Homo sapiens: one gene and its partners. The protein of the gene in region 1 purifies or fractionates together with the protein of each later gene. This does not show direct contact. Each region holds a gene or a part of one and is shown in the gene's direction. Other genes may lie near its edges.

Region 1 (2,787 bases):
ATTAGATGTTTGACTATTTAAACAGGCAAAACTAGGAATACATTTCTGCATATATATCAATTTTACATTCTTAGAGGGATCAGAATGTTTGATTGCAGTCAACTACAAAGAGATGGTCATTGTTTCTCTTCCTACATGTTAAAGTATCTGAATGGAGATAGCTCCAGAAAATAGTCCTGGATTGCATTTCCTGAAATAAGGAGACATTTTCAGTAGGTTAACCAGAGGATTGGATAGTAGCCACATACCAGGTTTTGAAGGTAGTGATTGTTCCTCAGGGGTTATGCTTTACACAGCTCGGATTTCCTAAAAGATAATCATTACATGAAGTACTTTAACTCAGTAGCATTTAGTTGTGGCTTAGAAATGCTGATATCATACACTTTATTTTTCGGTTCTCTTGTTTCTTACTCCCGTCTCTACTTCTCCAGCTTTAGAATTTGAGTCATTTAAGTATGTGTTTGCTTCATTCCTGTTTGGGGGCTGATTTGTACTCTTCAAAGAGTTTTGTCAGCTTTAGATCTCTGAGGGATAGATTGCCAGAGAAGGGGAAGTTTCAGTCCAGGCATATGTGCAGAGCCTTGATCAATTGAGGAAAGGAAAGGCTGTTTTACACAAGAGAGAAGCTGATGTTGTTTATGCACTTCCTAGGTAGTTAGAAACAAACCTGTGGCAAGGCAGGCTCCTGGCAAACGGAAGTGCAATTGTCGGCAAGAGATGCGGACCACCCAGCTGGGCCCTGGGCGCTTCCAAATGACCCAGGAGGTGGTCTGCGACGAATGCCCTAATGTCAAGTAAGTGAAAGCACCTTCTTTGTTCTACCAAGAAACACTTGTTAATTTCGTTCATCTAGTCAAACACTAATGGTCCATACTAGATCTTTCTCTGTCCCCTCCCCACTGCCATGTTCTGCAAAAGGATAGAGCAAAACAATGTACATTTTTTTCTGAAGTATTTGTAAATATCTCCTTTTATGTTTCTGAACTAACAAGCAGTGCCCTTTATTTCTGATACATTTTCAACAAGTATTAATGCTTCATTTTCTTCCTTCTTGTACTATTAGAGCAGCCTTATATGTTTATAAATGTATAGTAGCTTCACCCTGGATTTTAGCATATAGAAGATGTAAATGATTATCAGATAGTTTTGTCAAGTAGAGGCACACTACAGTCTTCCAAGAAAAAGCTCTGATAAAATAGGTATAACTTTATCTATATCTGATGTTTTGTTTATATTTTCATTATTTTTCTCCTCTTTTAATTCTCTTTACCTCAGACTAGTGAATGAAGAACGAACGCTGGAAGTAGAAATAGAGCCTGGGGTGAGAGACGGCATGGAGTACCCCTTTATTGGAGAAGGTGAAATATTGATATTTGATTTTTTGATTGTGATAACTTTTTGCTCTCTGCTTGTTTGTGAATACCTTTCACCCCTGCCTTACTCCATCTTAATGTTCACATAGTAAACGCATATATAATTTCCAACACTCTTCGGCCAATTTTAGGATATACAAAGCCTTTTGTTTACCTGAAGCAGTAGCATTACCGTTTATCCTTTGAATGTCATGGCCAAAAGTTATTATGAGGTAGCCTAAGTTTCATCAAAATTTAGGGTGTTCAGACCTTAATGAGTTTTAATTCAGCAATGAAAGAAGATATGTAACTCTAGTTGGCATTAATAAGATGCTCTCAGGACCTCACCTTTAGACTTAAGTTTAAAACTCTAAAAATAAAAAAAGCTTTAAGACTTAGGTTCAGGAGACCAGTGTATCATTCTTTGTTTAGGAAATGGGTCAAGTTATGTACTGCTGTATCTGAGGCAAAGGTGATGATTTCTAATAATCTGAAACTTGATACAACCAGGCAGAGACACTGCCGTCACAGATTTGACAGGTCAATGCCCAAAGTAGTGGATTAAAAAAATGTATCAGTTGCCAAATAGATTTGTGGTATTCAACTTGTATGATTTACAATATGCTGTAATCTGCTCTGACTAGGTGAGCCTCACGTGGATGGGGAGCCTGGAGATTTACGGTTCCGAATCAAAGTTGTCAAGTAAGTAATCTAATTTTAGAGGTCTTCTCAGATGAGTCAAATTATAGAGACGTAGGTGGCCACCAGAGCAGTTAGACTTTTTTCTCTGTTTCTTACCCTTATTACCCTAAACGATGATTTGTAACTCCTCTACAAGGCTGAAAACTTGGGGTTGGGCCCTAGGATTGAGCCCCAGTTATTTATTTACTTAGGACTTAAAAATGCAAAAGATGTTGAAAGGAAATAATTGATAAGTAAGGAGTTATAAAAGAGAAACAAACAAGATAGGGAGTCAAAGCTGAGATTTTAGCTGAAGAAGTATGGCACCATACAAGAATAGGAGACTTTTCCATAGACAGAACCTTCTACATAATATGCAGCTTCTGTAAAGAGAGCTTTTCTTTTGTGAGCTTCTCTTCAGCATGAAGTGCTGCTTAGACAGTTTTGCCTGGGACTCCAGCTTTCTTGATTACTGTTGCTCTCTTGTTACCACTTTGGAAACCAGTAATATCTCTGCCTTTGTAAGGAGTCATCAAAACAGGGTTCCCACCAGAATATGGAGAAATGGCCCCCCACTGTCTGGGACTTTGCCTTCCTGCACTCTTTAATCTCAGTGTTGTTTTCCCCAGCTTCTTTACCTACCTTGTCTTTATCATCACTTCTTAGAGAAACTGGAACATGTGTTGTTTCCTGAATAAACCTGACACCTTCCTTGTCTTTGCCAGAATTCCTTCTCACTCTATTTCCCCTTCCC
Region 2 (3,500 bases), on another chromosome or scaffold:
AAGATCAGTGTAGGCAGTGTTTAATGAGACCTTGTCTCTACATTAAAAATAAAATAAAATAAATTAGCCAGGAGTGGTGACAAACTTCTATAGTCCCAGCTACTTTGGAGGCCAAGGTGGGAGGATTGCTTGAGCCTGGGGAGGTTGAGGCTGCAATGAGCCATAATCAAACCACTGCACTTCAGCCTGGGTAACAGAGCAAGACTCTGTCTCAAAAAAAAAAAAAAATTAGAAAGCTTTTGAAATTGTGAGCTAGTCTCTTTTTTGTTGATAGCTGCATTTTAAATATTTAATAGGAAAAAAGCAACATGGAAATAGATATGACATACCAACTAAAAGTTATACAGCAGAGCCTAGAACAAGAAGAAGCTGAACATAAGGCCACAAAGGCACGACTAGCAGATAAAAATAAGATCTATGAGTCCATCGAAGAAGCCAAATCAGAAGCCATGAAAGGTATGCATTTTTTAAAGAGGGTTTTCCAGCAGCGTCTTCCTAAGAATTGATTCTGTGTTAGCTTTTTGGTTTTGAAACATTTTTTTTTATATTTCATTGTCAAATATTGGGAATTGGAGGGAAAAAAACTATTAGGGAAGCTTTACATAGATATTCTATTATTTTTCCTTTGTATCATTACAGTAATCATTTCTAAGATAGTAAGACCCAAACACAAAATTACATGATCAGATTTTTAGATCAGAGATAAATTAATATTTCTCAATATTATATACCTGGTAATATCTGTACCACTCGGTATACGTGTATCAGTAGTAAGAAGGAATATCTGAACTTCACACGCTGTATACCTGTTACTATTGATACAGGTAATTCTTGTAATACAAGAGTTTTGTATTATAAAATTCTTGCCAGTTTATGCAAGGTAAGAATTTAAAAGTAATAGCTGGTCTAACTAGAATATAAGTTCACTGAGTATTTTGATCTCTAACATGATGAAGATACTAGCCAGATTTGGTCGAAGCCATATAATACTAATAGATAACAAAGTTAACCTTCCCATAAACTAGACTTTATCCTGGAATTGTCTTAGGATAATTTTTTCTTTTCCAAACTGACTGTTTATAATGACTCTGAAATTCCAGAGAAAATCAGTACTTTAAGCTATTCTTGTGAAAGGCTTAAAACTCTTGAACAGAAATTTATTTTCATATTGAAGCATTACATGAGTAACTAACTTAGAAAAAATAGCCTTTTAATTATTGCATGTAATTAAAATGGTAGATTTTCTTAGTAAAAATCAGTGTAGTTTAAGGCACTAAATCAGGATGATAAGAAATGAAATGAGTACTTTATTTACAAAAATCTAATTGTAAGGGAGAAAGTTACTGGGCCATATTTCCTTGTCTGTGGCCTAGAAGACAGAGTTCAATTATTTTCATTGAGGTATAATTTACATGCAATAATAAAATGTAAACATTTTTGACATTTCGTGATATGCTCACATAACTACTGTTCAAAACAAGATAAAGAATATATCAGGCTAGGCATGGTGGCTCACATCTGTAATCCTAGCACTTTGGGAGGCCAGGGTGGGAGGATCTCTTGAGCCCAGGAGTTTGAGACCGGCATGGGCAACATAGCAAGACCCTATCTCTACAAAAAATAGAAAAATTAGCTGGATGTAGTCGCGTGCGCCTATAGTCAGAGCTACTTGGGAGTAGGACTCTCAGTATTCCTGCAATGATGCAGGAACATTGCTTGAGCCCAGGAGTTCAAGGCTGCAGTGAGCCATGATTGCATCACTGCACTTGAGCCTCAGTAGCAGAGCAAGACCCCATCTCAAAAAAAAAAAAAGGACTATTTTCATTATCTCAGTAATGCCTCTTTCTATTCTCAATGCCTACATTATGGTGATTGTTTTTTTTGTTAAATGAGGACATTTGTTTAGTGATTATTCTCTGAATTGATAAAAATGAACCAATTCAGTATTAACTACCATTTTTTTCAAACTATTAAAACGCTAATGTAAGATACATGATGACTTCCATATTTTACACATGAGTACACAAAACTGTTACATATTATAGATGGTTTCAAATCTGAGGCTAAAGCCTTTGGTCCTTCTGTTGCATGTCATTGGCTCCTTGGATTAAGAACATGGCTCACCAAATAATTACTAGCTATGTGACCTTGTCTAGTTATTTAAACTTTCTGTGTCTTGTTTCCTGTGAAGGGACAATTACAGTATTGTTACGTTGTTGTGAAAATCAAGTGCAATAAAACATGTAAAGTGTTTAGAAATGCTATTATTAGTACTACATGGGGAATGTTTCATTTTTCTGCACTTTTGAAGACCATTCATTAAACACTAAATATTCATAGGTTTAATTTTTACCTAATACAACTTTATAATAGATGATAATTAGATGTTGAGCATTAATTATGAAAAAGCAGAGGAGCCTTAATTGAATGTGAACTGAAGTACTAACCAGTATATCAAGATAATCCTTTAACTGTGATGACTTACATTTAACACTGAAATCACTTGGAACTTTGCCTTCTGATAAGTAAAATAGATTAAAAATTTATTGTAAATAATTTAGAAAACACAGGAAAGTATAAAGAAAAAAGCAAAGATTACTCATAATCCTATGAGTTAGGATACTATTTTGTAAATTTTCTCCACTTTCTATACCGTTTTGCTTTTTAAAAAACAAGACATTGTGAGCGTTTCCTTGGTCATTAAAAATTCTGCTTAAATAATAAGCACTTACCAAGTGCTTGCCATATGCCAGGCAGCATTTAAGTGGTACACATGTATTAAATCTTCACAACCTCCCTAGGTGCTGTTATCCCTATTCTGGAGATAAGGAAACAGGTCCAGAGAGGTGAATTACTTGCCCAGTCAAACAGTGTTAGACCCAGGGTTTAAGCTCAGAAAGTTTGGTTCCAGAGTCTTGTCCTTTACCACCTCCCTAAAACATATTTTTCAACACCTGCATAATAATGTGTTAACATGGAAAGTCCTATGGAGATCATAGAATCTACCTGGATTGTTTTAAGGTAAAAATAGTAACACTGAGAGACATAGAATAGCAGTAAGCAGTAGAATATAAGAAACCTTTGTTTAAAGATGTAAGCATCTTGTAGAATATAAATAAAGGTAGAACTATCTTGCTTCCATTAGAATAGATGTAATATTGCAGAGTGTGATACATTTTTACACCCTGTGAATGAAACTCCTAATTTTCAAGTATGAAAGTGAAAATATTAAATTGAAAATTAAGGCCAGGTGCAGTGGCTCATGCCTGTAATTCCAGCACTTTGGGTGGCCGAGGCGGGTGGATTGCATGAGGCCAGGAGTTTGAGACCAGCCTGGCCAACATGGCAAAACCCCATCTCTACTAAAAATACAAAACTTAGCTGGGTGTGGTGGCACACGCCTGTAATCCGAGTTATGTCTGGAGGCCGAGGCACGAGAATTGCTTGAATCCAGGAGGTTACAAAGAGCTGAGATTGCGTCACTGCACTCCGGCCTGGGC
Region 3 (3,500 bases), on another chromosome or scaffold:
ATTTTTTTTTTCTAGCTTCCCATTGGCCAAACCCACCTCCTGATCCCTTTCTAAATGTCTAATTCTTCTGGACTGTTGTCAATCCATAGCTGACCAGGCCGATTTTCTTTATCACTGTCTTTCTTTCCTGTGTAACAACCACTTAGTCTTAATGGTGGTAAGATTGCTCTGGATAAAGTGCTGATATTAACATATTTACCCAGAGGGTATGGGGAGATAATGCGGGAGGGTGGGCAAGTAAACAGCAGTACATTTTGTTGAATGAGAATAATAAACTACCTAAACTCAGTTTTCATTATTATGCCTTTTAAACCTTTTTTTTTTTTTTTTTTTTTTTTGAGACGGAATCTCACTCTGTCACCCAGGCTGGAGTGCAGTGGTGCGATGTCGGCCACTGCAAACCTCCGCCTCCCAAGTTCAAGCGGTTTTCCTGCCTCAGCCTCCCGAGTAGCTGGGACTACAGGCGTGCACCACCATGCCCGGCTAATTTTTGTGTTTTTTTTTTTAGTAGAGACGGGGTTTCATTGTGTTGGCCAGGCTGGTTTTGAACTCCTGACCCTCATGATCCGCCCACCTCGACCTCCCAAAGTGATGGGATCACAGGCATGAGCCCCTGTGCCCGGCCTCTTAAATATTCTTGATCAAAGTTACTAACGGGGTATCACTTAAGGTTTTTGGCAATAATGGCCAAAGAGTGAAGGGGTTGGGGGATGACGACTTTAGCATCAATTTTACAGGATAAGAAAAGGCAATAAATTATAATTTGCCTTAACAATATTATCTTAAACATATTTTGACAGCTATTCAGGATTATGAAACTGCTCAGGAACACAATGAAAATGATCAGCAGATTCGAGAAGGTCTAGAGAAAGCACAAAGATTATTGAAACAGTCGCAGAAACGAGATTATTATAAAATCTTGGGAGTAAAAAGGTGAATTATTAATTTAAAATTTACTTTGCTATTTTTAATCAACTCTGTTTCAAAGCTAATCATTGCTCTTTTTCCTCTCTGATTCATTTTCTTTACTTATGTAATTTCAGTCATATGGATTAAACCTTAACAGTCTTTAACATTAGAAAGCTACTTTGAGTATTTTATAGGCAAGTTTCTTTGATAGAGACCAATAATGCAACAACAGAATTAGTAGTTGGCAACAAAGATGACACTGTAGCATGAATGGGTCCTAAGCCTAGATTTTTTAAGAAGGGTAAAGGGGTAGGAGTGAGATTCCTTTTGGTGGGGATGGAGGAGGAGACGGAATGAGTAAAGAAAAAGCCTTCTCTAGGCCTAAAAATAAAGTAGTGCTTTCAGAATTAAGTCTGAAATTAAGATCTACCTTATATAAAAGTACATACTAAGTAAATGATACACCTCCCAGTGCCTGTGGGTGAATTCTGAAATTAAGTAAATGATATACCTCCCAGTGGTTCGCTGAGTAAACCATCAATTTTTCAAAATTTGGAATCTTTGTGCTTACTATTAAGTAAGCTAATGCAGAAGCATAATTGAAAGTGGCATTCAGAGTCAAATATTTTTTAATACCAAGAATTGAATTATGGTAACTTGGAAATTCAGAAAGTTAAAAAATTCATTGATGTACCTTTTTTAAAAAAGGGAAAGTTCTAAAGATCAGGAGTGCTTTATTCTCAGTAATCTTAGTGAGCGAGTATCCAAGGAAGCCTGATGTCAGCTTTAATGATCATCCAGAACTGTGTATGCAGATCTTTGGCCTGTGATACCATTGGAACTATTTTATAAAACCAGTTTTGTTAATTGCCAGTAGGATCTTAATCAGCTCTTCTGATTTTTATGATAGTATGTTAGACACTTTTCCACTAATGATTATTTATTTTACCACCCCTCAGAAATGCCAAAAAGCAAGAAATTATTAAAGCATACCGAAAATTAGCACTGCAGTGGCACCCAGATAACTTCCAGAATGAAGAAGAAAAGAAAAAAGCTGAGAAAAAGTTCATTGATATAGCAGCTGCTAAAGAAGTCCTCTCTGATCCAGGTATTATTAGCTTTTATTCCTTTGACTCATCCTAGAGGTGGTGTTAGAAGCGAGGGTGGAACATGTGGTGGGTTCTCCACGTGGGGCTGTATAGGCAGTGACGGGTCCTGAGCCCAGTTCCAGAGGTCCAGTTTTATGCCTGCCCTCATTCAGCCCTCTTATGTTGGGCACCCTCCTGTTGCAGGGTACAGTGGAAAGACTATCAAATGTGGAATCAGAGGGCCTGAATTTGAATCTTTTTTCTACTCAAAGAAGTTATCAGAACTTTTTGGTCTCAGTTTTTTCAACACTGAGCATAAGAGGATCTCTCAGGTTCCCTCTAACCTCAAAGGTCAATGATGAATTTTCTCCACCAAGCTTACAGGAGCTTGATGAGGAAACCAGCTTGCCAGGCTGGATTACATGGAGTGGGAGAAGAACAGCTGTCTGGCCTAGGGCCTGCTTTGCCCCATATGTGTTCACCAGGAATCTTGCCCTGAATCATAGGATCATTAGATTCACAGGCTTATATGTGTTTTTTTTTTTTTTAATTTTTATTTTTTGTAGAAATGGGATCTCACTGTGTTGCCCAGGCTGGTCTTTAACTCCTGGGCTAAAGTGATCTTCCCAAAGTTCTGAGATTACAGGTGTGAGCCTCTGCACCTGGCCACATGTGTTCTTTTGCCATACAGTAATATGGCCTGGAAATTTCGTTAAGAGGGAGACAGGCTAAGCATTGAGGTAATACTGAACAATGCTTTGCTGCTGCCAGAGAATTTCATGTTAAGCTTATACTGCTTTTTTGTGGCCTTCCATGTCAGTGGGAACAGCAGCTGTGATCTGAGCTAAACAAACAAAAGAGAGGAAAGTTTTATGTTTGTCAAATCTTTTTTGAGTACTTACTTATGCAGTGGAATTGAAAGTAAATGATCCTTTGTTTTCAAGTAATTTATAATCCAGTAAAGGAGACAGAAATGTACTTGCAGTGGAATTGAAAGTAAATGATCCTTCGTTTTCAAGTAATTTATAATCCAGTAAAGGAGACAGAAATGTACTTCCCTTATCAAGTAGTGTTGGATACATACTGTCCTGTTACTTAGCAAATACTGAGTGGCTACAACCTGCCTTAAGCAGTTCAATCCTCTTAGTTTGTGCAGTGCACAGGTGTGATAGTGTATCAGACTGGGAGTCAGGATCTTCTTATGTGAGAGGGACTTTGTGCTACGTTTTAAGGTACCAGGGAGCCAACCAAGGGGATGGGTGTCCCTGCACAGAGGCATGCACTGAGGAAAGAGCTGCAGGTCCTTTTTCTTACCTCCTGTTCTTCTGTTCAGGATGAACTATCTTTTCTTTTAAAGACTTTAAAGTTTTTTACTATGCATATATCAAGACGTGTCATATTTAGGAATATGTTTAGTAGAATCACATGATGTATGCCAATCTGAAACTTAATTTTCACTTGAAATAAATCTTGGCTATAGTTTTTTCTCATTGAAAAATGGTT
Region 4 (3,276 bases), on another chromosome or scaffold:
ACTTTCTCAGACCACAGTGGAATAAAACTGGAAATCAACTCCAAAAGGAACCTTCAAAACCATGCAGATACATGGAATAACCTGCTCCTGGATGATCTTTGGGTCAAAGATGAAATCAAGATGGAAATGTAAAAATTCCTCAAACTGAATGACAATAGTGACACAACCTATCAACCTCTGGGATACAGCAAAGGTGGTGCTAAGAGGAAAGTTCATAGCCCTAAATGCCTACATCAAAAAGTTGGAAAGAGCACAGACAATCTAAGGTCACATCTCAAAGAACTAGAGAAACAAGAACAAACCCAGCAGAAGAAAGAAGATCAGAGCGGAATTAAATGAAATTGAAACAAAACAACAAAAAAATCCAAAAGATAAATGAAACAAAAAGCTGGTTCTTTGAAAAGATAAATAAAATTGATAGACCGTTAGCAAGATTAGCCAAGAAAAGAGAGAAAATCCAAATAAGCTCAATAAGAAATGAAACGGGAGATATTACAACTGACACCACAGAAATACAAAAGATATTCAAGGCTACCATGAACACCTTTACATGCATAAACTAGAAAACCTAAAATAGATGGATAAATTCCTGGAAAGATACAACCCTCCTAGCTTAAATCAGGAAGAATTACCCTGAACAGACCAGTAACAAGCAGGGAGATTGAAATGGTAATTAAAAAATTACCAACAAAAAAATGTCCAGGACTAGACGGATTCACAACAGAATTCCACCAGATATTCAAAGAAGAATTGGTACCAGTCTTAAAGACACTATTCCACAAGAGAGAGAAAGAAGGAATCCTCCCTAAATCATTCTATGAAGCCAGTATCACCCTAATACCAAAACCAGGAAAGGACATAACCAAAGAAGAAAACTACAGACCAATATCCTTGAACATAGATGCTAAAATCCTTAAGAAAATTCTAGCTAACTGATTCCAACAACATATCAAAAAGATAATCCACCATGATCAAGGGGTTTCATACCAGGGATGCAGGGATGGTTTAACATACACATGTGCGTAGCCAAAGCAAGACTAAGCAAAAAGAACAAATCTGAAGGCATCACATTACCTGATTTCAAACTTATACTATAAGGCCATAGTCACCAAAACAGCATGGTACGGTTATAAAAATAGGCACATGGACCAATGGAACAGAATAGAGAACCCAGAAATAAACCCAAATACTTACAGCCAACTGATCTTCAACAAAGCAAACAAAAACGTAAAGTGGAAAAAGGATACCCTTTTCAACAAATGGTGCTGGGATAATTGGCTAGCCACATGTAGGAGAATGAAACTGGATCCTCCTCTCTCACTGTATACAAAAATCAACCCAAGATAAATTAAAGACTTAAATCTAAGACCTGAAACTATAAAAATTCTAAAAGATACCATTGGAAAAATCATTCTAGACATTGGCTTAGGCAAGGATTTCATGAACCCAAAAGCAAATGCAATAAAAACAAAGATAAATAGCTGGGACTTAATTAAACTAAAGAACTTTTGCAGAGCAAAAGGAAAAGTCAGCAGAGTAAACAGACAACCCACAGAGAAGGAGAAAATCTTTCATAATATATACATCTGAAAAAGAACAAATATCCAGAATCTACAATGAACTCCAACAAATCAGCAAGAAAAGCAGTCCCATCAAAAAGTGGGCTAAGGACATGAATAGACAATTCTTAAAAGAAGATATACAAATGGCCAATAAACATATGGAAAAATGCTCAACATCACTAATGATCAGGGAAATGCAAATCAAAACCACAGTGCGATACCACCTTACTTCTGCAAGAATGGCCATAATAAAAAAATCAAAAAAATAGTAGATGTTGGCATGGATGTGGTGAACACGGAACACTTCTACACTGCTGGTGGGAATGTAAACTAGTACAACCACTATGGAAAACAGTGTGGAGATTCCTTAAAGAACTAAAAGTAGAACTACCATTTGGTCCAGCAATCCCACTACTAGATATCCACCCAGAGGAAAAGAAGTCATTATACAAAAAAGATACGTGCACACGCATGTTTATAGCAGCACAATTCGCAATTGCAAAAACGTGGAACCAACCCAAATGCCCATCAATCAATGCGTGGATAAAGTAACTGTGATATATATACATACAATGGAATACTCCTCAGCCATAAAAAGGAGTGAATTAATGGCATTCACAGTGACCTGGATAAGATTGGAGACTATTATTCTAAGTGAAAGAACTCAGGAATGGAAAACCAAACATCGCTATGTTCTCACTCATAAGTGGGAGCTAAGCTATGAGGATGCAAAGGCATAAGAATGACACAATAAACTTTGGGGACTCAGGGAGAAAGGGTGGGAAGGGGATGAGGAATAAAAGACAAAAATTGGGTGCAGTGTATACTGCTCAGGTGATGGGTGTACCAAAATCTCACAAATCACCACTAAAGAAGTTAACCAACACCACCTGTTCCCCAGTAACCTATGGAAAGAAAGAAATGTCTCATATGTTTCTGCCTAAATTGGTCTTTAATACTTTAGCGATTCTCTTGAGTTTGGATTATAAAATAGTTTTTGGTCTTTTTGTATTTTCTGCTGTAAGCCTGTATGATTATGTAATGGTGAGTAAAATTGCTAGGCCAGATACGCAGTTCTAGGAAGTTATGCAAAGATGTGCTTTAGTATATTATTTTCTACCTTTTTAAATTCATTTTGAGCTTGGCTTTTGAGCCTCTATTTTCCAAGGTGGGGTGTATGTTTTTATAATGTTATGCTTAGCCCTTGTGTATTTTCATCTCTGAGTTTGAAATTTGGGGTTATATTGGCAAAGGGAGGTTTGGGTTTTAATTAGGTGACCTGTTAGAGGAAATGTTAAGCTTCTGTTTCTTTAGGGTAGACAGTGAGAGATTTATCAAGATAAAGAAGAAAAATAAATCCTAAAGTTAATATTCAATACATGATGATGTCACCCTTACTAAAGCCAAAGAGGGCATTATCCTATCATTCTCATCGCTAAGAACTCTTCTCCTCTTGGCACATGCTTATTCAGTTAAAGATAAGCCAAGCCTTTCTTTTGTATTTTTTTTTTAAGAGAACAAATTTACTTTGGTTTTGAGTTTTATTCCTGGCTCTGGGTAGCTTATTTTTTTGACCCTTATTTTCCCCAATTTATAAAATGAAATAGTTATCTTCACTCCCCAGGATTGTTGTGAAGAGTAAGTCAAAAGATACAATGAGGTGACTCAGGCAAAAGTACCTGGCCCTGTGTAGTGAGTACATTGTATGTGTTAC
Region 5 (3,500 bases), on another chromosome or scaffold:
CATATAGTTAGTAGGTGATGGATTCCAGGTGTGAACTTGGGTCTTACTGCCTTGAAATCCTTTGTTCCATGATACCATACTGCCTCAGAAGTAGAGTTCTTCATTAATTTCATGTGGTTTGTTAATGGGAGGGTAGGAACTCGAATTTCACACACTTCTCCCAGTCCTGTAATTCCAGTGTTATCCGCCATTCTTAGTAAGAGGTGTGAGGTCTTGGAGTTAGGTAAGAGGGCAGCCCATCTGACCTATTTGTAAAGGTCGATTGTGTCTTTTAAGTGTCCCTTGTTCCTCAAAGGCTGGAAGAAAGAAACGATTTCCTTGTTCCATCTTTTGCTGCCAGGAATGAATAAAGCAGAGGAGTTTGTGCTTCTAATCTACTTCTTCACAAAGGAAAAGATTTGTCATGCTTCTTTGGAAATGGGACTGAATTCTGATGTATTAGCTTTTACATATGAAAATTTGTATTTTAATTCCTTGAGTTTGAATAACAGATAATATGGGAAATCTAATATCATACAGGCTCAGAATATCTGCTCTGTTCAGTATCAAACTTATCCTTTGCAAACTCTCTTCTTCCTGTTGGTTTGTTTTTAATTTTGACCAATAATACCACTGGTTCTTGGCCCCCATGTCCAGCCCAGCTAGTCAGGAAATCCAGTCATTTCCACCTTTTTAGTATTGTATGTCTCATCTTTAGTATATCGTCTGTGCTATAAGTCTTATACCACTATCCTGTTTAAAATTCTTCTGGAAAGCCAAGTAAACTAGAAAGGATAAAGTTGAAACTTGTTAGCATGGCACATGTGGTCCTTCCTGATGTGGCCGTAGCCTGCCTTTTCAGACCCATCTCTTTCTACTTCCTACTCAAGTGAATTTGATTCCTGCTTCAAGCAACAGGAACAGCTCCTTTTTCTTAACCTCTGCATTTACTTTTTCCTGTATCTGGATTTTTCTTTTTCCTGGAAAATTTTTATTTGTTCTTTAGGGTTCAACTCAAGGGAATCACTTGTATGAAACTTTTCCTTTTGTCTTCAGGTAGAGGTAAGCATACATTGCTCTGTAATTCCATCATGCCTTTATTTATTCACACTGTGAGAGATGGTATTGTGCAGGTATCTTCTCAGTTTATCTTTTTGTTTCTGAGACGGAGTCTCACTCTGTCGCCCAGGCTGGAGTGCAGTGGCACGATCTTGGCTCACTGTAATCTCCACCTTCCAGGTTCAAACCATTCTCCTGCCTCAGCCTCCCGAGTAGCTGGGATTACAGGTGTGTGCCACCACGCCCGGCTAATTTTTGTATTTTTAGTCGAGATGGGGTTTCACCATGTTGGCCAGGCTGGTCTTGAACTCCTGACCTCAAGTGATCTACCTGCCTCGGCCTCCCAAAGTTCTGGGATTACAGGTGTGAGCCACTGTGCCTGGCCACTTTCTGAATTTATCTTTAGGCTATTTTATTAACAGTTGATTTCTTGATAACTAGGACTGTTTACTTCCAGGATTAGATGGCATTTTATTCATTTAAACTTGTCAAGCAAGAATAACCTCTTTGTTCTTTTTGTTTCCCTAGTATCGGTTTTATGGAGAACCTGTAATAAAAGCATGTATTGAAAATGGAGCCAGTTGTATCGACATCAGTGGAGAACCTCAGGTATAAAAAATAAAAAGGAAAAACGTAGAATTAACACATAAATTTCGGTTTAATGAAGTGGAAATATTTAGTGTAATTTTGCAGACATATTTAGAAGCCGACAACTCCTTTCTAGCATTCAGATATGGTATTCGTGTGGTATTCCATTGATAGCTCAAAGGAGAGCGCTGATGGTAAGGTCTTAGCTTCAGTTTTCTGAATTTTTTCCCTCCCTACAACATCATTTCTTATAGGTCTGTGCTTATTATAGCTACTTCATGCTTTAAACTGAATCAATTAAAATAGCGGACTGTGCATAATTCTTAGAATCTCAATTCTGTCATGTTTTCATTTTGAATTCCCTTTTAAAAATCAGGTACCTTTAGGCCGGGCACGGTGGCTCACACCTGCACTCCCAGCACTTTGGGAGGCCAAGGCGGGCAGATCATGAGGTCAGGAGATCGAGACCATCCTGGCCAACACGGTGAAACCCCATGTCTACTAAAAATACAAAAAGTGAGCCGGGCATGGTGGCGGGCACCTGTCATCCCAGCTTCTTGGGAGGCTGAGGTGGGAGAATGGGGTGAACCTAGGAGGTGGAGCTTGCAGTGAGCCGAGATCACTCCACTGCACTCCAGCCTGCGCCACAGAGCGAGAGCGAGACTCTGTCTCAAAAAAAAAAAGAAAATTCAGTTACCTTTATAACATTACAGAAAAATAAAGGTAAAATTCACTAGTGTAAAATCAACCTAAACATTTTAAATGTTCACATTTATTGAATGCTTACCATATGCCCAACATTGTGCTAAGTGTTTTATGTAACTTTTTAAAAATATACCTATAGGGTAGTTATCTTCCTCCATTTTTTGTAGATGAGGAAATTAAAGCTTAGGAAGCTTAAGTAACTCACTCAGTAATGCACCTAGTAATGCACCTAGTAATGCACCTAGTAAGTAGAAGAACTAGGTCTTCAATTGAGGTTTGCCTGACCACAGGAAGTTATGTGTTAACAGGCATTAAGCTCTACTACAGCCTTTAAAATGGTAACCTCATGTGTCTCTGTAGTAACTACTGATTATCATCATCAGCATGCCAATATGATATTAATATGCATTTGCAGTTTATCAATTGGTAAAATACTGGAAAATACTGAGACAGTGTAAATTACAAAAATTGATTCAAAAAGGAGGAAACAAATTAAAAAAAAAAAAAAGCCCAGGCGAGGTGGCTCACGCCTGTTACCCCAGCACTTTGGGAGGCTAGGTGGGAGGATGACTTGAGCTGGTGAGTTAACAAATTAGCCAGGAGTTGGTAGCACACACCTGTGGTCCCACCTACTCAGGAGAATGAGACAGGAATATCACTTGAGCCTGGGAGGTCAAGGCTGCAATGAGCTATGATCATGCCACTGCACTCCAGCCTGGGCAACATAGTGAGACCCTGTCTCCAAAAAACAAAAACAAAAAACAATTCCCATGTTATTTTAAATAACCCAGAACATAGAAAATGGTGAAAAGCTTTTAAGTCATCTAGAAACTATCATAAAAGTAGTATCGAACCCCCCCCTTTTTTTTTGATACAGGGTCTCTCTCTCTCACCCAGGCTGGAGTGCAGTGCTACGATCTTGGCTCACTGTAACCTCTGCCACCTGGGTTCAAGCGATTCTCCTGCCTCAACCTCCTGAGTAGCTGGGGGTACAGGTGCACACCACCACACCTGACTAATTTTTGTATTTTTAGTAGTGACAGGGTTTCACCGTGTTGGCCAGCTTGGTCTTGAACTCCTGGCCTCAAGTGATCCACCTGCATCGGCCTCCCAGAATGCTGGGATTACAGGCATGAGCCACCACGCCCAGCCATAATATCAAAACCTAA
Region 6 (3,500 bases), on another chromosome or scaffold:
TCCAAGTGGAGGTGGCCAGGAGGCATCTGGGAACACATAGGGGACTGAGGCTCAGTGGTGTTAGTTCATTACTACCTGACTGCAAACCTCCGCCGACTCATGAAACTCCCCTCGTGTCATGTCATTTTGCCTTTTGTAGCAGGGCCGTGGATTTGTGATGATGGACACTGTGGCCCTGTGGCTAGAAAATAGGGGCTTAGACCAGGCACGGTGGCTCACGCCTGTAATCCCAGCACTTTGGGAGGCCGAGGCGGGCAGATCACAAAGTCAAGAGATCGAGACCATCCTGGCCAACATGGTGAAATCCCATCTCTACTAAAAATACAAAAATAAATTAGCCGGGCCTGGTGGCGTGCACCTGTAATTGCAGCTACCCGGGAGGCTGAGGCAGGAGTGTCGCTTGAATCTGGGAGGCAGAGGTTGCAGTGAGCTGAGATTGCGTCACTGCACTCTAGCCTGGCGACAGAGCGAGACTCCATCTCAAAAAAAAAAAAAGAAAAGAAGGGCTTAGAGGACTGAGCTCTGTGACTGGATAGGTAAGGGGAGATCACCACAGAGAGCACCCTAGACTCGGAGCAGGAGACCTGCCTGCTAGCCAGCCTCTGCCCTGACTGCCTGTGCAACTGTGCTGCTCTCCCCAGACAAATGACCGGGAGCCATGACGTCATCGGGGGCGCAGGAAAGCAGGTGCTCTGCTGCTTTTGCAAGCAGAGAAATAAGAGTTTGGGCACCTACCCAGGGGTCCCAGGGAATGCCCTGTGGCTCCTGACCTCCCCCGCCTGTAATGCTCTGAGCACTTCAGCAGTAATGCATGGAAGAGATAAGGGTCTGTGACCCATGGAACTGTCCAAGTCCTCTCTGACACCCGCTTCTTTTCCTGCCGTGAAGGTAAGCCACTTTATAGATCCTAGGCCTGAAACCCAATGTTGGGAGGGAGTGTTTGTTTTCAAGAAGAAAGAGAGACTGAAACTAGAACATGCACATTTCTATCCAGAAGAAAACAGTTGGAGTAGACTAGAGTCCTACAAAGAGGGCAACAGGGAAGAAGATTCTGGACTGAGTAAAGGGGACCCACTCCTGGGTCCACCTCCTGCCTGGGCCCTCTGGAGAGAGAATTGGCCAGATTCAGCCCTGAGTCACAGCACCCTCCCCAGTTGCTGCCTCACAGCCATCTCCACACCAGCAGCCATGCCCCCAGCGGCAGCTCGCCCACACCTCTGTGGGACCTCCCCACCGTCTCGCAGCCCATCTGCTCCAGGCTTCTACTGACGATTTCGTATTTCACATGGACTCATTTCTCCTCAGACACTCCAGATGGGGAATGCCTTTCTGCAATATCAAAGTGCCCCATTAGACTGGGGAGGAATCATGAGGGGACATACCCCTGCCCCTGCCACAGAGTCGAGCATGGCAGCTGAATATCTCTCACACTGGCATGGCCCCCATCCTCTGGAGAAAGGAGGCCTCAGTGCAGTCAGCCTCTTCAGGAGGCAGAAATGTTGAGAAGTTCTCGCCACCCCTGCTGGGTGACTTTGGGGAGGTGTCTCCTCAGACCTCTGTTTCTCCATCTGGACGGTAAGCATGCTTGAAAGGTTGGGTTTTTGTTTGTTTTTTGAGACCGGATCTCCCTCTGTCTGCCAGGCTGGAGTTCTGTGGCGTAATCACGGCTCACTGCAGCCTCAACCTCCCAGACTCAAGCGATCCTCCCACCTCAGCCTCCCAAGTAGTTGGGACTACAGGTGCTCGCCACCACACCCTGCTTTGTTGTTGTTGTTGTTGTTGTTGTTGTTGTTGTTGTAGAGACAGGATTTCGTCATGTTGGCCAGGCTGGCCTTGAACTCCTGAGCTCAAACGATCTGCCCACCTCGGCCTCCCAAAGTGCTGGAATTACAGGCATGAGCCACTGTGTCTGCCAGCCAGATAGTTTTTGATGTGCCAAGGTTCATTCCAGACCATCTCCCACATCTTCTACCTGTCTTGTCACTGTGCCTTTACTCTCTCATCTCCTCTACCAGCACAGGCTCTTCTGGGGGTAATACTGGGGCCAGTTCCTCTTGGCATCCCTACCTGCCATGTCAGGGAAGGATTGCTGAATCTGGTCCACAGGTTGGCTCTGGGGAAAGTATAGTGTTGGAAGCTGGAGCTGAGATCTCCTGTTTTCTAGAACATGTGGTGAAGGAGACTTGCCAGCCATAGATGCTGACAGCTGAGAGATTAGGGGGGCTTTGTTAAGGAGTGGATAGGGTGCCTTCAGGAGAGTGCTCTGACAGAGTCCTGCATTTGCACTGACCTTGCAGCCAGTTTCAGAGAAGCTTGGGGTGTTATGACAGCAAAGGACAGGCCACCAGGAGCCAAGAGCATCTTCATGGCAAGGCAAGTCAGCATGGGAGCAGTGAAAGTCTAGAAAGGATTGTCATTCACATGCACACGTATGTTTATTGCGGCACTATTCACAGTAGCAAAGACTTGGAACCAACCCAAATGTCCAACAATGATAGACTGGATTAAGAAAATGTGGCACATATACACCATGGAATACTATGCAGCCATAAAAAATGATGAGTTCATGTCCTTTGTAGGGACATGGATGAAATTGGAAATAATCATTCTCAGTAAAGACTACTGCAAGGACAAAAAACCAAACACCGCATGTTCTCACTCATAGGTGGGAATTGAACAATGAGAACACATGGACACAGGAAGGGGAACATCACACTCTGGGGACTGTTGTGGGGTAGGGGGAGGGGAGAGGGATAGCATTAGGAGATATACCTAATGCTAAATGACGAGTTAATGGGTGCAGCACACCAGCATGGCGCATGTATACATATGTAACTAACCTGCACATTGTGCACATGTACCCTAAAACTTTAATAATAATAAAATTTAAAAAAATTTAAAAAAAACAGGATTGTCATTTGCAGTCCGGACAGCTGAGTGACCCACTGTGGGCCTTGAAGATAGATGGAAATGACACTAATCATGGCCATTCATTGTCAAATCTTTGAGAGAGAATAATAATTAAATTCAGCAGTGTCACTGGTACAGAAGGAGGAGCACTGAGCCTGGAGTCATAAATCTCAAACCATTTGTTGAGTACTTAGAACCGATCTTTGGCTAGTAAGCATTTACACATTTTTCTTTCATATAAAAGGACCTGAGTTTGAATCCTGGCAAGGCACTTCACCTTTCTGAGCTTGAGGAATGAATCCTGGCACAGTTTTCCTCATCTGCACAACAGGAATGGATGATTATATTGTCTGTGTCAAAAGATGATACAACCTTTTTTTTTTTTTTTTTTTTGAGACAGAGTTTCACTCTTGTTGTCCAGGCTGGAGTGCAGTTGTTCAGTCCCGGCTCACTGCAACCTCCACCTCCTGAGTTCAAATGATTCTCCTGCCCCAGCCTCCTGAACAGCTGGGATTACAGGCACCCACCACCATGCCCAGCTAATTTTTGTATTTTTAGTAGAGATGGGGTTTCACCATGTTGGCCAGTCT
Region 7 (3,500 bases), on another chromosome or scaffold:
CATTTAATTCTCACACCAACTCTATAAGGCTTTAGTGTTGTCAGTTTTGGCATGCTGAAGTTAAAACTCAGGGAAGGATTCTAAATGACCCAAAATTAAATATAGTATTTTGCTCATATTTTTATGCTTCTGTTGCCTATCCTGACTTACAGCTTCATTGCTCAAAAAAGATTATACTAGAATCACTTTTACATATTTTAGCTTCTCTAAAGTTGGTTTCATAAATAGAAAAAAGCACATATAGGCTTAAAAGTATATGCCTTAAAGGCATTGTTTGCTGCTTTTACTCTCTGCCTTTTTTCACTTTCTCTCTCTCTCTCTCTCTCTCTCTCTCTCTTTTTTATATAGAGGAATTACAAAATACTTTTGTTGAAATACACCTTAATCATCATCTAATCCAACTAACCTTTGGAAGCCGTGGGTAGCATATTCTCCCATAATTGTAGTCACTACTAACTTGTCAAACTATCTATGCTTAATTACACTTGCAGGGCTATTCCATTCATTTTTTAACTTCTCTTACTATTACAACCTCTTCCTTCTATTGGGTAAAAATATGTTATGTGATACCCCCCAAGCAGTCTCAGTTTTACTCTCTGGGCCATAACATCATAATGTCTACTAAAAATGTTTCATACATTACATTTCTGCCACATGGTTAGCTTTCTGCTAGCTTTCTGAGGAAGAGTACATTTCTAAAGACATTGCATGTGTGATCATGTGTCCGTCTCTCACATTTGAGAGTTCAGAAATGTCCTTCAGAGTTTGAAGGCATTGCTTCCATTTCAGTGAGAGATCTGAAGCTATTTCAGTGCTTAATCTTTTGTTTATGATCTCTTTTTATCCCCAACTCCCTGGACATGGATAGGCATTTTTCTTTGTCTACAGGGTTCTGAAATTTCAGTGATGTCCTTTAATGCGGGTTTCTTTCCATCCATTATACTCTTCACTCAGAATGCCCTTACAGTCTGTAAACTTACTCCCCTCACTTCTTGGATCTTTTCTTGAATAATATCTTAGATTTCTCCTCTGCTGCTTCTAGTGTTCTCTCTGGAGCAACTTTTGATTCTCCAATTTCTAAAAATCTTTTTTTTTTTAAATCTCCTTTTTTGAATTTTTGGGCAATTTCCTCCAGTTTATATAATAACCTTTCTATTGAGTTTTTTATTTTCTACACTTTTGAAATGCGTTCGGTACTAATTTTAAAAGTCTGCAATGTGGCTGGCAAGGCTGGTCTTTCTACTCTCCAGCTTGTTTCCTTCATTCTCTGTTTAGGTCCCACTAGCTTTCCAAAGTTTTAAAAAGCCACGTTTTCTCTTGTTACAGGGCCTTTTTGCACATGCTATGTAGCATTTCTATCCCATTTTACTTAGTTAACTCCTATTTATTTTTTTCATTGACAACTTATTGATTACATCCTCAAGCCTTCCCAGATCACATTAGCCAGGCCAGACCTCATTATATGCTTTCATGATTCCATGCACATTTTGCATTCTTTCCAATCAGACCACTAATGCAGCAGTCATGCATGTTTTTATCCCCAGTGCTTATTAAAAAGAACCCGTCACGTAATAGCCGCTCATTAAATATTTGTGTAACAAAAACAGAACGAATACGTAGGTTAAGTTCAACCAGAGGGATGGTATTTACTGAGAGTAACGGGGAGCCAGGATTTGGAACTCTGAGGAAGAATTGAGAGGGATCAGGTAAAGGAAGTACAGCCCCTGAAGGAGACTGAAAAGAACCAGCCAAAGAGGAGAAAGGGACACTTAGAAAGCACAGTGTCATGAAGCATTTTAAGCAGGAAAGAATGGTTAGCATTGCCAAAATAGGAGCAAGCAACATTGGGCTTGAAAAGGGGCTAATGGACTAATAAGAAAAGTAATTAATAACTGAACAGCCTCAAGGTGAATGGAAGGAAGGTTAAAGAAGAAGTAATGAAATAACGTGTGTAGATAACTCTGGAGTTTAGTTGTGAAGGGAAAGAAAATGATACCTAGAGAAGAGCATCAAAGTCAGATCTTTTTGTAGTTTGCTTTTTTACTTTGTTTTTACTTAACCCATTTATGCCTAAGGTTGCAATTTTTTGAATTTTTGCAATCAGACCTTGGCGATGACCTTGAACAACAGGGTATAAGTAACTCCCACATGCTTAGTGTTCCAGTAATGGAACACAGAAGAAACAGCATACAGCATTTAAATGAAGAGAGAGAAGATTTTTAAAAACTAGGAGTTGGGCAGCATAATTATTAATATAATTATTAATAGGTATCAGTCACATGTCCTTTTCAAGTACCAGAGACCATGCCAAGCATTTTACAGTCAGAAGCTAATCCCTGTAATACCTTACAGATATAATAGATATCGTCATCTGTCAAATGGTGATCTGTTTTATAAATGAGGGAACTGAGGCATGCAAGAGGGGGTAGAATCTAGAACCCTGATAGGAGTAGCCGCAGTAACTCCTCCATGTTTAAAGGAGGGCAGGGTGCCAGGATGGGTGTGGGTGCAAATGTATTTAGTTGAGGCGCGAGCATGGCATTAAAGAACATGGGCTTGGGAAACCGTAATGGCAGATTTCAGTTTATAGCCCAGCTCTGTTAGCTTTATAAATCCCAGAAAGTGACAGTTTCTTTCAGCTTGTTTCCTCTTCTTTAAATGGGGATAATAATAGGATTACAGGATATTAGCATGATCATTGTGATTAATATAAGTAAACAGTGCCTGAACACTGTTGGTGGGAATATGAATTAGTACAGCTATTATGGAAGTTCCTCAAAAAACTAAAAATAGAACTACCATGTGATCCAGCAATCCCACTAGTAGGTATATATCCAAAGGAAAGGAAATCAGTATGTCAAAGAGATACCTGTACTCCAGTGTTTATTGCTGCACTATTCATAATAGCCAGAATATGGAATCACCCTAAGTGTCCACTAATAGATGAATGGATAAAGAAAATGTGGTATATATACACAATGGAATACTATTCAGCCATAAAAAATAATGAAGTCCTTACATTTGCAGCAACATGGATGAACTGGAGGACATTAAGTGAAATAAGCCAGGCACAGAAAGATAAATACCACATGTACTCCCTCATGTGGAAGCTAAAAAGGTTGATTTCATAGAAGAGTATAGAATAGTGGTAGGTAGTAGAGGATGGGAAGGGTAGGGGGAGCAGGGATAGGGAGAGGTTGGTTAATGGATACAAAAGTACAGCTCGATAGGAGTAATTCTAGTGTTCTATAGCTCTATACGGTGAGTGTAATTAACAATTTATCGTATATTTTCAAATAGCTTGAAGAGCAGATTTTGAAAGTTCCCAACGCAATGATAAATGTTTGAGTTAATGGATATGCTAATTACCCCAATTTGATCATTACATATTGTAAACATATCAAAATATCATGTACATCATAAATATGTGTAATTGTGTGTCAGTTTAAAATAATAATAAAAGCAAAAACATAAGTAGTAATGGAAGGCAAGGTCCTTTG

The links.
Region 2: the proteins of DNAJB11 (region 1) and ROCK2 purify together in Homo sapiens (affinity purification with mass spectrometry; 4 studies listed by BioGRID and IntAct, with this or other methods). This does not show direct contact.
Region 3: the proteins of DNAJB11 (region 1) and DNAJC3 purify together in Homo sapiens (affinity purification with mass spectrometry; 3 studies listed by BioGRID and IntAct, with this or other methods). This does not show direct contact.
Region 4: the proteins of DNAJB11 (region 1) and ZNG1C purify together in Homo sapiens (affinity purification with mass spectrometry; 3 studies listed by BioGRID and IntAct, with this or other methods). This does not show direct contact.
Region 5: the proteins of DNAJB11 (region 1) and SCCPDH purify together in Homo sapiens (affinity purification with mass spectrometry; 3 studies listed by BioGRID and IntAct, with this or other methods). This does not show direct contact.
Region 6: the proteins of DNAJB11 (region 1) and KCTD21 purify together in Homo sapiens (affinity purification with mass spectrometry; 4 studies listed by BioGRID and IntAct, with this or other methods). This does not show direct contact.
Region 7: the proteins of DNAJB11 (region 1) and BORA purify together in Homo sapiens (affinity purification with mass spectrometry; 3 studies listed by BioGRID and IntAct, with this or other methods). This does not show direct contact.

The regions. Positions count from the first base shown.
Region 1 is NC_000003.12:186,580,720-186,583,506, forward strand, and holds part of DNAJB11 (dnaJ homolog subfamily B member 11 isoform 1 precursor), read left to right. Parts: intron 1-651; coding exon 652-794; intron 795-1,275; coding exon 1,276-1,358; intron 1,359-1,996; coding exon 1,997-2,054; intron 2,055-2,787. UniProt on the Homo sapiens protein: As a co-chaperone for HSPA5 it is required for proper folding, trafficking or degradation of proteins.
Region 2 is NC_000002.12:11,208,637-11,212,136, reverse strand, and holds part of ROCK2 (rho-associated protein kinase 2), read left to right. Parts: intron 1-296; coding exon 297-456; intron 457-3,500. UniProt on the Homo sapiens protein: Protein kinase which is a key regulator of actin cytoskeleton and cell polarity.
Region 3 is NC_000013.11:95,785,139-95,788,638, forward strand, and holds part of DNAJC3 (dnaJ homolog subfamily C member 3 precursor), read left to right. Parts: intron 1-800; coding exon 801-933; intron 934-1,868; coding exon 1,869-2,017; intron 2,018-3,500. UniProt on the Homo sapiens protein: Involved in the unfolded protein response (UPR) during endoplasmic reticulum (ER) stress.
Region 4 is NC_000009.12:68,293,983-68,297,258, forward strand, and holds part of ZNG1C (zinc-regulated GTPase metalloprotein activator 1C), read left to right. Parts: intron 1-3,276.
Region 5 is NC_000001.11:246,734,409-246,737,908, forward strand, and holds part of SCCPDH (saccharopine dehydrogenase-like oxidoreductase), read left to right. Parts: intron 1-1,566; coding exon 1,567-1,647; intron 1,648-3,500.
Region 6 is NC_000011.10:78,175,127-78,178,626, reverse strand, and holds part of KCTD21 (BTB/POZ domain-containing protein KCTD21), read left to right. Parts: intron 1-641; exon of another isoform or gene 642-1,496; coding exon of another isoform or gene 1,497-1,575; intron 1,576-3,500. UniProt on the Homo sapiens protein: Probable substrate-specific adapter of a BCR (BTB-CUL3-RBX1) E3 ubiquitin-protein ligase complex mediating the ubiquitination and subsequent proteasomal degradation of target proteins. Promotes the ubiquitination of HDAC1.
Region 7 is NC_000013.11:72,748,423-72,751,922, forward strand, and holds part of BORA (protein aurora borealis), read left to right. Parts: intron 1-3,500. UniProt on the Homo sapiens protein: Required for the activation of AURKA at the onset of mitosis.